3 separate regions of the Homo sapiens genome follow, and all the other regions are reported to be linked to region 1. Evidence: microRNA targets listed by miRTarBase, many of them from high-throughput screens and not tested one by one. Region 1 holds a microRNA gene; each other region holds the end of a gene's coding sequence.

The links. The annotated mature microRNA hsa-miR-6795-3p reads ACCCCUCGUUUCUUCCCCCAG and lies in region 1 at 732-752, shown strand. An mRNA with a match to its seed (bases 2 to 7 or 8) in the 3' UTR can be bound and repressed. Matches are read on the target gene's strand: a 7mer-m8 pairs with bases 2 to 8, a 7mer-A1 pairs with bases 2 to 7 and ends in A, and an 8mer does both.
Region 2: the mRNA of TXNL1 is a reported target of hsa-miR-6795-3p. The part of its 3' UTR that is shown has no 7-base or 8-base seed match.
Region 3: miRTarBase lists RDX as a target of hsa-miR-6795-3p. Seed matches in the 3' UTR shown: 7mer-A1 at 1,520-1,526.

The regions. Positions count from the first base shown.
Region 1 is chr19:15,176,778-15,180,034 of GRCh38, reverse strand. MIR6795 (microRNA 6795) reads left to right here and starts at 685; the gene lies at 685-752. It overlaps NOTCH3 (notch receptor 3), which reads left to right. Exons shown (of 33, transcript NM_000435.3): 21 at 539-671; 22 at 753-1,010; 23 at 1,094-1,212; 24 at 1,945-2,510. RefSeq lists a silencer at 2,221-2,390.
Region 2 is chr18:56,600,116-56,603,372 of GRCh38, reverse strand. TXNL1 (thioredoxin like 1) reads left to right here. Exons shown (of 8, transcript NM_004786.3): 8 at 317-3,257. The coding sequence ends at 346. Among named protein-coding and RNA genes, the nearest start is that of TXNL1, 37 kb to the left of the region's middle.
Region 3 is chr11:110,229,173-110,232,429 of GRCh38, reverse strand. It overlaps RDX (radixin), which reads left to right. Exons shown (of 14, transcript NM_002906.4): 14 at 397-2,989. The coding sequence ends at 561. Among named protein-coding and RNA genes, the nearest start is that of RDX, 66 kb to the left of the region's middle.

The DNA of each region.
Region 1 (3,257 bases):
GGCATGCTTGGGTGCGTCTGGGCACACATTTCTGTGTGGCTTGGTATGGGTATGTCTCTAGATATGTCTGAGTTTTTGCTTTTGTGACTCTTGGTGTATCTGTGGGTGTCACTCTGGGTAGATCTGGGGTGTTTTTTTATTTGTTTGTTTTTTTGAGACAGGTTCTCACTCTGTCACCCAGACGAGTGCAGTGGCGCGATCTCAGCTCACTGCAACCTTTGCCTCCTGGGTTCAGGTGATTCTTCTGCTTCAGCCTCTCATTATAGCTGGGAGTACAGGCACCCACCACCACGCCCAGCTAATTTTTGTATTTTTCATAGTGACAGGGTTTCACCATGTTGGCCAGGCTGGTCTCGAACTCCTGATCTCAGGTGATCTGCCCACCTCGGCCTCCCAAAGTGCTGGGATTACCTACTGGTAGTGCGCTGAACATCTGTGTGTGTCCTTTTGTGCTGGGGTTCTTTGCGTCTTCATGGGTATGTCCAGGTGGGTCTGTGTCCCACTAAGCTGAGTGGGTCCCTCTCTTACCCCACTGAAGTGTCTTCCTGGCTACAATGGTGATAACTGTGAGGACGACGTGGACGAGTGTGCCTCCCAGCCCTGCCAGCACGGGGGTTCATGCATTGACCTCGTGGCCCGCTATCTCTGCTCCTGTCCCCCAGGAACGCTGGGTATGCCAGGGCCAGGGTTGGGGGGACAGGATGAGAGGCTGTCTTCATTCCCTCTTGACCACCCCTCGTTTCTTCCCCCAGGGGTGCTCTGCGAGATTAATGAGGATGACTGCGGCCCAGGCCCACCGCTGGACTCAGGGCCCCGGTGCCTACACAATGGCACCTGCGTGGACCTGGTGGGTGGTTTCCGCTGCACCTGTCCCCCAGGATACACTGGTTTGCGCTGCGAGGCAGACATCAATGAGTGTCGCTCAGGTGCCTGCCACGCGGCACACACCCGGGACTGCCTGCAGGACCCAGGCGGAGGTTTCCGTTGCCTTTGTCATGCTGGCTTCTCAGGTAAGCGTTGGCGAAGGGGCTGGCCTGGGACCCCGCCTGTCATTCCCCCATTGTGGCTGATCTACATGCTCCCGCTCGCTCAGGTCCTCGCTGTCAGACTGTCCTGTCTCCCTGCGAGTCCCAGCCATGCCAGCATGGAGGCCAGTGCCGTCCTAGCCCGGGTCCTGGGGGTGGGCTGACCTTCACCTGTCACTGTGCCCAGGTAGGTGTGGGTGGCGGCCTTTGGAGGAGGAGTAGGGGCGTGGCCTCTGGAGTAGTAGGGGCGTGGCGTCTAGGAGGAGGATGTGGCTTTAGGGGAGACATCGAAGGGAAGGGAGTTTCTGGAAAATGCTGACATTTCCGCCGGGTGTGGTAGCTCACACCTGTAATCCCAGCACATTGGGAGGCCGAGGCGGGAGGATCACTTGAGGCCAGGAGTTAGAGACCAGCCTGGGCAACATGGTGAAACCCCGTCTCTACTAAAAATATAAAAATTAGCCGGGCGTAGTGGCAGCTGCCTGTAATCCCAGCTACTCGGGAGGCTGAGGCAGGAGAATCACTTGAACCCGGGAGGCGGAGGTTGCAGTGAGCCATCACGCCATTGCACTCCAGCCTGGCGACTGAGTGACACTCCGTCTCAAAAAACAAAGAAACAACCCCCTGCCCCGACATTTCCTGGAGGTTTGAAGGGAAAAGGGTGAGGATGGTGATTGGGGGGCGTGGCCTCCTGGGATGGCAGGGCTTATCTGCCAGGTGGGGTCTCCAGTGTGGAAAGGGGAGCGGTTGGGTGGGACATGGGGAGGTTGAGGGGGTCTCAACCTTCCTTAGTCTTGACCTCTTCTCTTCCCCCTCTCTCCCCTTGACTCTTCTTTTCCCCACTCCTCCATTTCTTCTCCTCCTTCCCTCCACTCCCCACCCTCATTTTTATCCCTCCCTCCCCAAACCCGACCCCCAGCCGTTCTGGGGTCCGCGTTGCGAGCGGGTGGCGCGCTCCTGCCGGGAGCTGCAGTGCCCGGTGGGCGTCCCATGCCAGCAGACGCCCCGCGGGCCGCGCTGCGCCTGCCCCCCAGGGTTGTCGGGACCCTCCTGCCGCAGCTTCCCGGGGTCGCCGCCGGGGGCCAGCAACGCCAGCTGCGCGGCCGCCCCCTGTCTCCACGGGGGCTCCTGCCGCCCCGCGCCGCTCGCGCCCTTCTTCCGCTGCGCTTGCGCGCAGGGCTGGACCGGGCCGCGCTGCGAGGCGCCCGCCGCGGCACCCGAGGTCTCGGAGGAGCCGCGGTGCCCGCGCGCCGCCTGCCAGGCCAAGCGCGGGGACCAGCGCTGCGACCGCGAGTGCAACAGCCCAGGCTGCGGCTGGGACGGCGGCGACTGCTCGCTGAGCGTGGGCGACCCCTGGCGGCAATGCGAGGCGCTGCAGTGCTGGCGCCTCTTCAACAACAGCCGCTGCGACCCCGCCTGCAGCTCGCCCGCCTGCCTCTACGACAACTTCGACTGCCACGCCGGTGGCCGCGAGCGCACTTGCAAGTGAGCCCATCCACCCGATCGATCCGTCTGTCTATGCATCCATCCCAGTCTGTTTGTCCGTGGGCCCTGCCTCTCTTTCCACCTGCCCATCCACTTGCCCCGTCTGTTTCTCTGTGCACTCTATCTGCCCATCGGTGTGTCCCACGTGTCTGTCCGTGTGTCTGTTCATCCATGTGCTCTGTCTATCTTGTTCTTGTTTCTATCTGCCTATGCACTTCTCTGCCCCGTTTGTCTGCCCTTTTCTCCATCCAATAATTACTTTTTTTTTTTTTTCCCGAGATGGAGTCTTGCTCTGTGGCCCAGGCTAGAGTGCAGTGGCGCGATCTCGGCTCACTGCAACCTCTGCCTCCCGGGTTTAAGCAGTACTCCTGCCTCAGCCTCTGGAGTAGCTGGGATTACAGGTGTGAGCCACCGTGCCCAGCCGAATTCCTTTTTTTTTTTTTTTTTTTTTTTAAGACGGAGTCTCGCTCTCTTGCCCAGACTGGAGTGCAATGGCTCCATCTTGGCTCACTGCAACCTCCGCCTCCCGGGTTCAAGCGATTCTCCTGCCTCAGCCTTCCGAGTAGCTGGGACTACAGGTACCTGCCACCACGCCTGGCTTTTTTTTTGTATTTTTAGTAGAGACAGGGTTTCACCATATTGGCCAGGCTGCTCACGAACTCCTGACCTTGTGATCCGCCCGCCTTGGCCTCCCAAAGTGCTGGGATTACAGGTGTGAGCCACCGCACCTGGCTCCTTTTTTTTTTT
Region 2 (3,257 bases), not on the chromosome of region 1:
TGTTTTACTCATATAGCATCATTTTTTAAATTAACTTCTCTAAACTTTCAACCTTGTTTTTAAAAATTGCTATTTAAAAAAAAAAAAAAAACTGTGTGAAACCAAAAATAGCCTGCATGTGTTTTATTTTTAATTCCTTGTGGCTGGGATTGGAGGGGAGGTCACAGTTTGCTTCAACAGTGAAAATACATTGCATGCCAGAAAAGATCCAAGGATAAAAATTAATACCAAGGTTTTAAACTGATTATTAGTATTTTTAATAACTCATATTTAAAATCAATAGGATGTACATATAAACTTATTTTTGTTTTTCTAGGTAGTTGGCAAAAAAGGAGAAAGCCACTAAGGTACAAAAGACACTGGACAACCATATTGCAATCAGATCTACAGCTCCTGGATAATTGCTTGATTCTCGCCAGAGACTGTCAATGTTTCATTCATTGCCATTACCAATAAATCATTGCTTTTGTTCAGATGGTATCACTAGTGTTTCCATTGTAATCTTGACACATGCAATTGTAAATAAAAGTCACCACTTTTGCCAAGCTTAATTTTTGTCTTTCTAAATCAGTATTTTCTCTTTCCATGTATTTGAAAACTGGTTAACTTCTGATTTTAGTAGAGACTTAAGTGTCTGGTAGTATATTGATTGAAAGCCAGTTTCTTTAGAAAAGGAGAAACTGTTCTAGGGAATTAAGAAGTACATGTGTACACATTCATGGCAAGTTATTTTGATAAGTGAACCTGGAACAGCTAACCATGTTAAATTATTACTGCATTTTTATTAAAGGACATTTGTATATCTGAGCTATGGAAATTACTCAAATTATAAATTAGAAGAAATAAACAGGTTTAATGAGATTTAGCTACTCTTACCTAAAACTTAGCTAATGGGTCCACAGATTCTTTCTTGGTATATATCAAGATTTTAATCTCTTCTGGTAAACTTTAAAATTTGAGTCAGCCTTTTTTTTTTTTTTTTTTTTTTTAACTAATAGAAGAATGTGGAAATCAGACAGTTGGGGAAAAAATACAGCATAGTGAATTCAGAAAACAGGAATTGGCCAGGTGTGGTGGCTAATGTCTGTAATCCCAGTACTTTGGGAGGCCAAGGCGGGCGAATCACCAGAGGTCAGGAGTTCGAGTCCAGCTTGGCCAACATGGTGAAACCTCGTCTCTACTAAAAATACAAAAATTAGCCAGGCATGGTGGCGGGTGTCTGTAATCCCAGCTACTTGGGAGGCTGAGACAGAAGAATCGGCTGAACCCGGGAGGCAGAGGTTGCAGTGAGCTGAGATTGCGCCATTGCGCCCCAGCCTGAGCGACAAGAGCAAAACTCCGTCTCCAAAAAAAAAAGGGAATTATTACCCTTAATCAAGTATTTATTACCTGAACTACCAAAACGTGCAGTGTAAATATACAGAGAACATGATTTAAGGTTGAAAATGAGGTGCTCAAATAGAAATGTTTAAAAGGTCTTTCACAAAAGGCTGGTAAAATACCTATTCGTTACCTTTTTTATCTTAAAATTGTAATCTAAAAAGTATTGGTAGTTTTAATTTTAAAATTTCTGAGTATTTTGAAAACTATTTTTAAAGAGTACATAAGACTGTAAAATTGTGATTCAGTTAAACATTTGAGGGCATTCTTGTCTAGGAATATGGTAGAGATACCATTTGCCTTTGTGAGAGCAGTGTGTTTATACTTGTTTATGAAAAAATTCTACAGAAGTTTTAGTGTTGAAAGAGTCCCTTTCTGAAACCCAAGTGTCATTAGATAGTTTAGTTCATTTGTATATGGGCACATTAACTGGTCTGTGATGATCTTAACACTCCTTAAATAGACCATCTCAGATTAATCACATCTGAAATTAAGGATAAGATTAATATGCAGGGTTTTGGTTTACAGTTTTGTACACTTAACCTTTCTGAGTAATTGTTAAAGTGCCTCATCCTAAGTATTGCTGACCTTTTCCTATTTATACTTGATAGTTTGAAAACCCAGTGAAACAAATTTCGTATTTGTAAAGGATTGGACATCAGATTTATATTGTCTATGTGACTCTTCTATAACAATTAGTTGCAGTATGCAAGTATTACATAATTCAAATTGTAAATAGTGAAAAATGAACGTTTATAGGTAACTATAACGTTTCACTTAATGGGAAATCTTACTATTATAAATGTGCATAATTGGCATTTAAAATATCAAACTGAAATGCTGTTTTCTCCTAAAACAGTATATATATATACACACATATGTATATGTAACATTTATATATAACACTGAATTTTCCAGATGAATAAGAGCATTTGAAAAAATGTAACTCTAGTTATTTTAACTGAAGTTATTTATTAGTGCATCTAGAAAACTGGTATTCAGTTTCTTGTTCATTTTGTCGGACATAGCAAAAAAGAATTTCATGATCTCTGTATTTTGATACATTGACATCAGGTGCTTTTGATGAGAAACAACAGTGAAATATCGTGTTCATAATAGAAACGAAAGTCAGGTATTGCAGTAGGAAGTCTTTGTCAGCTTAATGCTGAAGCCAAGAGTAGCACAAGGTACCACATTCTTGTGCCCACGACAGGCTTTTATAATCCTTCTGAGTTCTCTTTGACATCAAGCCCCACGTTGTTCCCCAGTCTCAATATTCTGTTGGAGGCAGCCACGTAACAATTAGAGTTGAAACCTGCCCCACGTTGTTCCCCAGTCTCAATATACTGTTGGAGGCAGCCACGTAACAATTAGAGTTGAAACCTGCCCCACGTTGTTCCCCAGTCTCAATATACTGTTGGAGGCAGCCACATAACAATTAGAGTTGAAACCTGCCCCACGTTGTTCCCCAGTCTCAATATTCTGTTGGAGGCAGCCACGTAACAATTAGAGTTGAAACCTGCCCCACATTGTTCCCCAGTCTCAATATTCTGTTGGAGGCAGCCACGTAACAATTAGAGTTGAAACCTGCCCCACTTTGTTCCCCAGTCTCAATATTCTGTTGGAGGCAGCCACGTAACAATTAGAGTTGAAACCTGCCCCACATTGTTCCCCAGTCTCAATATTCTGTTGGAGGCAGCCACTTAACAATTAGAGTTGAAACCTGTCTGCCATCCTTTGTCTCAATGTTTGAGGATGTATGCAGTGTTTTTGGCAGCGATTATAGGAATGCAGTTGTTTATTTGGCCTCAGCAGTTTATTTATGGCTGCAATTAATATCCCTGATCATGGGCTTTTAAACCTAAAATAGTTCAGAT
Region 3 (3,257 bases), not on the chromosome of region 1:
AATCTTTAAATATTAAAAGAAAATGAGGTGATAGTTACAATAAATGTATTAAGACTTTTGGAGAAGGCTTCCCTTGAGGTATAGATTTTAAATCTCATAGTAATATTAGTCTGTAATGGCTACATTGAACTTTTTAGCCATTTCAAGTATTAGATTAGAAAGTTAAGGAAATTTAGAATAATGTACAAAATACCATGGTTGATAAATGTGGAAAGGCCATGTGTATTCCTCCCTTACCACTGCCACCACTATTACTAAAACAAACTTATACCTAAAGAAAAAGGTTTCACAGTGGAAATGATTTGGTATATGTATTTTTGCATCTTAAAGCCATTTTCATAAATTTTTTTAAATCTAAGAAAAAAATAATAGTTGTACTTTTTATTTTTTAAATAGGCATTAAGTTCAGAATTAGCCCAAGCCAGAGATGAAACCAAGAAAACACAAAATGATGTTCTTCATGCTGAGAATGTTAAAGCAGGCCGTGATAAGTACAAGACTCTGCGACAGATTCGACAAGGCAATACAAAGCAGCGTATCGATGAGTTTGAAGCAATGTGAGAGCTGTTATTTTGCATATATGTTCTTCATAAGCTGAACCACCAACAGAGAAAAGCAGGCCTTTGCAGATATGATGGAATGCATCCCACCTTGCCAAAGCACTTACACCAGTTTGACTGTGCTAGCTAAAAGACAAATTTAAGGGGAGCTCTTCAACATTAAGGCAGTATGATATCATGCTTGGTTTTCTTTTTTCTTTTGGTCCAGGGAATGGAGAATGGTGTTCCATTGCCTCTTTTCACATTTTTTTTCTTTTTCTTTTTTTTTTCTGTTGAAGATTAACACTAATTATCACGTCTGACAAATGTGTATGTGTGGTTTCAGTTCTGTGTACATTTTAAAGGATAATGGTGAACATTTTAATGGGTTTCCCTTGCCCTTTCCATATTTAACCTATTTCCACATTCTCTCTCACTCACATTTTCTCAGTGTGCCCTTCTCTTATCTGCCATGTCCATAGCCATAATTCCACCATCATACAGATCAGGCAGTGTTTAAAATGATGGTAGGTAGCACAGTGGACAGTCTTTGATCATCATGTAGAATATGGCTATGAATCAGGAAAGAGATTAGAACATTTAATAATGTATGTACAGCTGGTGCTTAGTTTTTTTTTAATCTAAATTTAATTACCTTATTGGATATTTGATATTTGGTTATTTAATCACAGTCATCTTTAACAGCTTACACTGATTGGTGTTTTATCTCCTGTGATCCTTTGATGGCTTTTTTTGCCTACCATTTCACAGAGGTTTAGACAGCAGTAGTAGCTCCCTAGGAGAGTTTACTGATGAAACAGCCTCTGCAAGATTTTAAAAGTTTTGTTCTTTTATAGACTGATTTAGAAAAACAAATGATTAGTTAAAAAAAGAAAATATACATTTGTTGGTAACTAATGTTATTTTTTAAAACCTGGACCTTTTCTGGAAGGGCAGCATATAAAAACATCAGTCCCGAGGAGGGGACAACAATACTACCTCACTACTACATCTGTGATGACTGGTTGTTCAAACACAATGGAGTGTGTAAGGTATATGTTTTATAATTCATAACCATAGCCTCGATCATCAAGAAATACTTTCGAAATTTCATTTTCCTTCAGAATATCTTAAGAGTGCTAAATTTTTAACTGCCTTTTTGTCGAGTCAAACTGTGGGATTCTGATTTGTATTAAAATTGTAAGCTCCTCACTGGTATACTATCATCCTGGAGGGGTGTTGTATGGCTGAGCAAGAGAGAGAGAGAATGAGAGAGAGACTGTGTGTGTGTGTGTGTGTGTGTGTGTGTGTACTCTGTGTGTGTATGAGAGAGAGAAATGCTAACCTTGTAGCATGTGAAGAATGTCTGTACCTTGATACGATAGTTACATAATCAGTATATTTGGTTTCTAGATCACTGTGCTTATTTTGTTTCAATCTCTGACTAAAAATACTTAAATTTGGTTTGTTAATTCTTATTTTAGAAATTATAATTTTAGTTTATATTAATTTCGGTTATAGCTTACTGAAGAAATCTTTCCAGTTAGAAGGAGGTTCTAATATTCACATGTTCTAATACTTTGTTTATTGTAAAACAGCTAAATTTGGAGATACGTAAAGCCTTGTTTTCTCTGTGTGGTTCAGCTACTTTCCATTTGGTATTACACAGTCAAATTTACATTTATCTATTAAAATTGCCATTTTATTAAACATTTTCATGCACAGTAGATTCAAGTTGTGTCTGAAAATATCTCTTGTGCTTTTTTGATTTTGCTGACTTTAAAAGGATTAATCTGGGCAGACATTATGTAAAAGAAAGGTTGCGTTTAATATATTTTTTGAACTTTGTAGGACAAAACATAGCTGGTTAACCTTGAAGTGACTGTTGTACCATGGTTGTGCACATGCTTCAGAATCCTATGGAAGAGAATATTCCTACTTGCAGTACATCAAAGGAATGGATGGTGGACCCTACTATTCATGTTTTGAGACATAAATGTTCACTTTAAAGCAATTGCATAATAGATAAAAACCTGAACTTTCATTGGATTTTTGTTAATTTTCCTCATTTTGAATTATGTGCACTACCATAGCTACATCAGTTTGATACAGTATTGAAAAATTATCAGTTATATTTTGCTGTTTATGATCTATTTGTAGATTAGGATTAAAATGGATTTAATCCATTTTTAAGGCTGTGTGAATTTTTCTAAACAAGAACCATTTGCAATATGGATTTCTTAGAGATTAAACCAATTATAACTTATTAGCAGTCGCGAGCACATGTTCATATAGTCAATGTAAAAATACACTAATGAGTATTTGGTAAATCCCAGTAGGCTTTTACCATTAGCATAATTTTGTGTTGTACAATTAAGTTACAATTACATCTCTAATTTTGGATAATATTCATTGGTTAACAATAAAGTGACAAAAGCTCATGCCTTCAAGGTCCACTGTTGTTATTTAACATGGATTTTTTGTATGTTTCTTGAAAATTACAATCTTTATCACAGCCATGAATCACCACAACTTAAAAGTAAGAAGTAGATAGGAAATAATTTTAAATCCTCATAGATCTACTCTTTCCCCGATACCTCTTTGGTATGGAAGTAATAGTGATTAATTCTGTGGAAAAGTTAAATTATTAAATTAAATTGACTTTGTTGACAACAAAACGTAATTTAGGGTTTCCAGTCATTGCCTTTATTGTATAGT